2 linked regions of the Homo sapiens genome follow. The protein of the gene in region 2 purifies or fractionates together with the protein of the main gene of each other region. This does not show direct contact. Each region holds a gene or a part of one and is shown on either strand. Other genes may lie near its edges.

The links. Proteins that work in one complex are often made in the same cells at the same time.
Region 1: the proteins of CCDC6 (region 2) and PPP4R2 purify together in Homo sapiens (co-immunoprecipitation; 4 studies listed by BioGRID and IntAct, with this or other methods). This does not show direct contact.

What each region holds. Positions count from the first base shown.
Region 1 is NC_000003.12:73,055,711-73,059,467, forward strand, and holds part of PPP4R2 (serine/threonine-protein phosphatase 4 regulatory subunit 2), read left to right. Parts: intron 1-3,326; coding exon 3,327-3,420; intron 3,421-3,757. UniProt on the Homo sapiens protein: Regulatory subunit of serine/threonine-protein phosphatase 4 (PP4). May regulate the activity of PPP4C at centrosomal microtubule organizing centers.
Region 2 is NC_000010.11:59,794,882-59,798,638, forward strand, and holds part of CCDC6 (coiled-coil domain-containing protein 6), read right to left. Parts: intron 1-3,757.

The sequences.
Region 1 (3,757 bases), on a different chromosome or scaffold from region 2:
GAGTGCAGTGGCTCAATCTCGACTCACTGCAACTTGCAACCTCCACCGCCCAGGTTCAAGCAATTCTTTTGCCTCAGCCTCCCGAGTAGCTAGGATTACAGGCCAGGCTGGTTCTTGAACTCCTGACCTCAGGGGATCGCCTGCTTCGGCTTCCCAAAGTCCTGGGATTACAGGCGTGAGCCACCGTGCCTGGCCCAGGGTTTTTTATTTTACAGTATAACTTTGCTAATGAACATCTGATCACCACTTCCCCCCAAATTTAAGGATTTCTGAATAGACTTTTCATTGAGAATGAGTGGCATGTGTGTTTAACGCTCCTCTCCCTATATTTGCTTTTCTTAGTATGTGTGGGAAAAGCCTTAATATTTTCAGAAGTTAGAATAAACTATTTTGTATGCTATGTCTAATGGATGAGTATCAGAGAGCAGAGCTTTCATATACTTGTACCAAATGCTTTCATTTTGTACTGGTTTTTCTGGTTTATTCTTGTGCCTCCTTTTAGAGGCCTACCTCACACTAAGTTTTCCCAGTGTCACGCTTACTAAGCTTGGCATACAGTTTATTCTGTCTCCATGGCACTTTTTATACAGTGTTGTTATTTATTACTGTAATTGTAATTATTTACATGTCTTTTGACTGCTGTTGAACAAGGTTGGTATTTCTAGTTTATAATAGGCTCTTATATTTATGGAATAAGTTTAAAAGTACAGTCTGTATGTAAAGAGACCTTTCAATGCTGTTACGTTCATTTATCATACTAATATTTCCAGTGGATCCATTGATTTGCAGAAAGTGTTTGGTTGGGATTTAGCCTGTCGTGTGAGAAAAGGAAGTGTTGTGTGACATTTTAGTGCCATCTATTGGATACTTGGTAAAATGACTTTTAAAGCTTCTTTTACTTTTTGAAATAAGGATCTTTTGAAAAAAGCTTCTGAAATTGTCTAAGAACTTAAACTCGTTTTATCATTGCTGGTATTGCTATGTAAACACATACCCCCCTCCCAAAGCAGTATTAATATTAAACAACACATAAAATATTAATAATTGGCTACAATTTAACTTACATTTCTAAAGAAAATTAGCCAAAGCATTCAGTGTACATGTTGTTAAACAAGAAGTTTTAAAATATTCATCTGTTAAAACTAATTTTAATTAGTGAGAAAACATTAGGTTTTAATGTGGGAAAGAATTTTAGTAGGAAGAAAAAGCATAATGACTAGACAGTATTTTTCAGTTAAGTACTATTTGAATACCCAAACACTTGTTGAATACCCAAACTGTTGGTGCTATTTTGTATATTTTGAATAATAAATTTTAATGACAGTATCACTATGGGGTGATTAATGAGGAAATAGCTTAGGTGTGTTGTGTGTGTAAGGTTTGAAGAGCCATGAACTAGAAGAGGAGCTAAGGTGAGTTATACCACTAATCTGAAATCCACGATAATACTGGGTTTCACGGACAGACAATTGAGAAACTAATACTGTTTGTTATACATGTGGAAAATGCTTAAACATTTTTAAAGTAGAGTTAGTTTTGTGTATTAGCTATAGATTTCTAATGGTTGTCTTTATAGGAATGAAACAAAAGATGTATAAGCTTATTGTTTCATACTTAGTAACGCTGTTGGTGTGCTTTGTACTTCCCCATTTAAAAGGATTCTTCATTTTGACATTGTACTTCACTCTGAGTAGATTTTCAAAAGCAAAAAAGTATTCTTCCTCAGAAACCCAGAGGAATTTCTAGTTGCTTCTGAATGTTTGGAATATCAGGCAAACATTTAATCTTTTATTCTGTGCCTTGTCTTTTGGTAGAACAGTTTTCTCACTTTTAGGTTTGGATTCGATTTTAGGTTTGAGACAAAAGATTGATTCTTGGACTCTCAAATTTATCTAAAAACATTTGTTCTCATATGAATAACATGCACTTTAAGCACTTTCAGAATTTTTTGCACATCTTATACTTTGAACATAAGAATAGTATTGACACAAAGAATATGAGAACCAAATGTAGTTTATCCAGTTAGAAAATAAACAACTATAATTTTGTAAAATACGTGTGGTACAATGGAAAGGACATGAGATTTGAAGTTAGAGAGACTGAGTTTGAGTCCTGGCATTTTAACTCACTAACTACTATACCTTGTGGTGGAAGAAAATTCTGTATCACACTGCCTATAAAAAATGAAGACCTTTGTGAATGTTAACTATTAATTTGAGGCTTTGTAATTCTTTTCATTAAAGAGAATAAATAGATTGGTATGGCAGACACTGAAGTCTGAAGATTTGTTTGTATTTGTTAGCTGCGTTTGTCGTACCTCGTGCTCATAACTTTGCTGTTCTGTTCAGCTTGTAATTCTTATGAATGCTAATAGCTACATGAGCTCAAAACTTAAAAATATTTATAAAATGATTTTAGTTCCAACTTATATCAGTTTTGTATTTACTGTGGTCAAGGAAAAATTGAGGTATAGTGAAATTATTTGGTAAAGTTAAATAAAAGTTGTGTATATTTTAAGTTGGATTAAACTTAGATTATATATGAAATTGCAATAATGGAGCAGAACCACATTTAAAATATTTGTAGTTTTGTTTGAACATTTTAAAGAAACCTTTGAGTGCAGAAGAATACTTGAGGAAAAATACATATATTAAATAACCCCCAACTTGATTATTATTTGTGTTACCTCTCTTGTAAACTTAAAAATCAAATTATCAGGATTTAGAATTTTCTATTATATAAAAATTTTTTCCTCAGTTTTGAAGCTTTCTGTTGATTTTGGGTGTTCTAAGTTGCTTTTTTTTTAAAAAAGAATTTCTGTTGGTAAATAGTAGGTTTACATATTTATGGGGTACATGAGATATTTTGATAGAGCCATACAATGCATTATAATCACATCAGGGTAAATGGGTTATCCATCACCTCAAGCGTTTCTTTATGCTTTGTGTTACAAACAGTACACTTATACTCTTAGTTATTTTAAAATGTACGATAAATTATTGTAGTCAACCTGTTGTGCTATCAAATACTAGATCTTATTCATTCTAACTATATTTTTGTACCCGTTAACCATTCCCCCCTCCCTCCCCCCCCACCTTTATTGCTTTTTAAAGGAAGGGAGAATGGTTTTTTTGTTAAATAGAAAGGTATGCTTATTTTATTGTCTTTTTTTAAATGACTCATCCATTTATTTCCCTATTATAGCATTTTCTTTTGTAGCTTAATACATGGGTGACTAGATACAGCTTTACCTAGCAAAAGAAATAATGTTCCTCGTTTTCTTGATTATCAGTGATCTCACACTGTAAAATTATATTTTTTTGCAGTATCCCTTTTACTATTCAGCGACTATGTGAATTGTTAACAGATCCAAGGAGAAACTATACAGGAACAGACAAATTTCTCAGAGGAGTAGAAAAGGTATTTATTTTATTATTGGAATTATATTATGCTGTGGTGTAATAGCTTTTATTTTAGAAAAGAACATTGAGTAAGATCTGTTTCGGGTACCACTTCTTGAAATATGTTTTTCAGCCTACCTTGAGTTTCCCAAATTGTTTTCCAAATTGCATTCTGTTTTACAGAGAGATTTAATAGGACCGGGTAGAGGAGGGTTTGTGTGTTGGTCATTGAAGTTTGGTGAAAGCAGCTTATTATTTCTTGGAAATTCATAGTGTATATCAACTTATTAAAGGTTCTGTGAAGTTATAATTGCTATTTTAACTTTATAGAGTGTTTTATAAACTTACACATGGAA
Region 2 (3,757 bases):
ATGGTGTTGGGAAAACTGGATATTCACATGCAGAGGAGTGACACTGGACCTTATCTCTTACACTATATACAAAAGTCAACTCAAAATGGATTAAAGACTTAACTATAAGACCTTAAACTATAAAACTCTTAGAAGGAAAATAGGGGAAAAGCTCCCTGACATTGATCTTAGCAATGATTTCTTGGATATGACATAGGCAACAAAAAAAAAAAGCAAAAACAAATACGTGGGACTACATTCAACTAAAAAGTGTCTGCGCTAAGGAAACTTTCAGTCAACAGACTGAAAAGGCAACCTATAGAATGGGAGGAGATATTTGCAAACCATATACCTGGTATGGGGTGAATATGCGAAATACATAAGTAACTCCTATGACTCAAAGCAAACAAACACACTCAAATAGTCCAATGAAAAAATGCACAGAGAACTTGAATACACATTTCTCTAAAAAAGATACACAAATGTGCTAATAGATATATGAAAAGACGATTATCACCACTAACCATCAGGGAAATGCAAATCAAAACCACAGTGAGATATCACCTCATAACTGTTAAGTTGGCCATTATTATTTTTTTTCTTATTCATTTTTATTATTATTATTATTATACTTTAAGTTTTAGGGTACATGTGCACAATGTGCAGGTTAGTTACATATGTATACATGTGCCATGCTGGTGTGCTGCACCCATTAACTCGTTATTTAGCATTAGGTATATCTCCTAATGTTATGCCTCTCCCCTCCCCCCACCCCACAACAGTCCCTAGAGTGTGATGTTATTCCCCTTCCTGTGTCCATGTGTTCTCATTGTTCAATTCCCACCTATGAGTCAGAACATGTGGTGTTTCGTTTTTTGTCCTTGCGATAGTTTACTGAGAATGATGATTTCCAATTTCATCCATGTCTCTACAAAGGACATGAACTCATCATTTCTTATGGCTGCATAGTATTCCATGGTGTATATGTGCCACATTTTCTTAATCCAGTCTATCGTTGTTGGACATTTGGGTTGGTTCCAAGTCTTTGCTATTGTGAATAGTGCCACAATAAACATACCTGTGCATGTGTCTTTATAGCAGCATGATTTGTAGTCCTTTGGGTATATACCCAGTAATGGGATGGCTGGGTCAAATGGTATTTCTAGTTCTAGATCCCTGAGGAATCACCACACTGACTTTCACAATGGTTGAAATAGTTTACAGTCCCACCAACAGTGTAAAAGTGTTCCTCTTTCTCCACATCCTCTCCAGCACCTGTTGTTTCCTGACTTTTTAATGATTGCCATTCTAACTGGTGTAAGATGGTATCTCACTGTGGTTTTGATTTGCATTTCTCTGATGGCCAGTGATGGTGAGCATTTTTTCATGTGTTTTTTGGCTGCATAAATGTCTTCTTTTGAGAAGTGTCTGTTCATGTCCTTCGCCCACTTTTTGATGGGGTTGTTTTTTTCTTGTAAATTTGTTTGAGTTCATTGTAGATTCTGGATATTAGCCCTTTGTCAGATGAGTAGGTTGCAAAAATTTTCTCCCAATTTGTAGGTTGTATAAAAGAAAAAAAAAGGTAACAAGTGGTGGTGAGGATACGGAGAAAAAATCCTTATACACTGTTGGTAGGAATGTAAAATGGTGCATCCACTATGGAAATCAGTATGAAAATGCCTCAAAAGATTAAAACTAGAAGTACCACATGATCTAGCAATCCCACTTCTGGGTATTTATACAAAATAATTGAAATCAGGATCTCAAAGAGATATTAGCACTCCCATATTCACTACAGTGTTATTCACAATAGCAAAAATGTGGAGGCCTGGAGCGGTGGCTCACGCCTGTAATCCCAGCACTTTGGGAGGCTGAGGCAGGCAGGTCACAAGGTCAGGAGATCGAGACCATCTTGGCTAACATGGTGAAACCCCGTCTCTACTAAAAAAAATACAAAAAAATTAGCTGGGCATGGTGGCGGGTGCCTGTAGTCCTAGCTATTCGGGAGTCTGAGGCAGGAGAATGGCATGAACTCGGGAGGCGGAGCTTGCAGTGAGCTGAGATCGTGCCACTGCACTCCAGCCTGGGCGACAGAGCCAGATTCCATCTCAAAAAAAAAAAAAAAAAATGTGGAAACAACCTCACTGTCCATCAACGGATGAGCAGATAAAGAAAATGTGATATATATAGACATATAAAGGAATATTCAGTCTAAAAGGAGAAAATCCTGCCATATGCAACAACATATATTAACCTCGAGAATATTATGCTAAGTGAAATAAGCCAGTCACAGAAGGACAAATCCTGCCTGGTTCCACTTATATGAGGAGTTTAAATAGCCAATCTCATAGACACAGAGTAGAATGGCGGTGAACTGCTGCTCAACAGCCATCAAGTTTCAGTTAAGCAAAACGAATAAACTACAGAGAGTTGCTGCACAACATTATACTACAGTTAACAGTACTGTATTGTATTCTTAAAAATAAGAGGATAGATCTTATATTGAGAGGTCTCACCACAATAATGATTTTTTTAAGTCAAACCCTGTCAGGAATTCAACTGAGATTCAGGAAAGCAAAAGACATGAGAAAGAACAAGAATAAAGTGGAGAAAATCGAGCAAAGGAGTAAATATCAAATGCAAGAAAACCAGAAATGTCAAAAGATGTATCAACAATTGACCAAACTGGAGATAGATATTAAGTAGCCAATGAACTGAACCTCCTAGCAAAAAAAAAAAAAAAAAAAAAAAAAAAAAATCAACAAGAAGAAGACAGGGAGAGTGTGGGCATGAGTGAGTGAGAGAGAGAGAGAGTGAGAGTGTTGTGTGTGTGTGTGTGTGTGTGTGTGTCTCAGCCATAACAGCAAACAAAACCACTGGGAATATCACGACTTGAGAATATTCAATACAAGGAATGAAAGCCCTGCCAATGTTCCCTAAAAGAACCTGGTATTTAAGGAAGAAACAATCCCCAGTCCAATATAATGTTCTGTGTAGTCTTCATGTAGGAGTCCAGGATCATCTCCACTGTGTTTTAACATCTGTATGTCCAGACTCTCCTTACTGTTAGACAGGTTTGGATTGGGGTCCATATTTTGAGAACATCTAAAAGCGATCCTCACCTACATGTGGCATGTGAAGCCCTGCTCGTCAAGAGTCAGTGCAGAAGTCACCAGCCGGTCTGGGGAATTACTTGTTTTATCACTGCACAAATGTGGCTAGCTTTCTTTACACCTTTGAGTTCCCAACATCTACCACAATACCTTGCACAGGGTAGGTTCCATACTGGCAAAGTGAAAAGGGAAAACAGAGGAGCTGTCTGGGGAAATGTGGATAGGAATCACCTATTGACAATTACTCTGAACATACTATCAGCTATTAGAGGCCAAGCAATGTGAACTCCACTTACTGCTTTTCTGAATTACGTAAAAACAAGAAGCTGTTAAGTATGCTCTTCCATCTGTCTTTTTTGTTTCCATGACAGAGATATTCAGCCAAGCCTTCCTTTAGTTGTGCTATTATCGCAGGACTTTTCTGTGCCCTCAGCATCTAATACTAAAAGTTTATTTTGTGATTTGACTATGAATTAGTGATGCTTTCTATTTGACATATTTCCATTTCCAATTGTGGAGTTTTTATTCACATTTACAAAATGGAGGTCTGGGATAAAGGACAAGTCTTTGGGAACTAAGTGGTTTTTTAATGTGATATTTACTGGAATCACAAGAACTTTACTCATCTGGGAAAAGAAAGAAGTTGTTTTCTTTAAAAAAACATT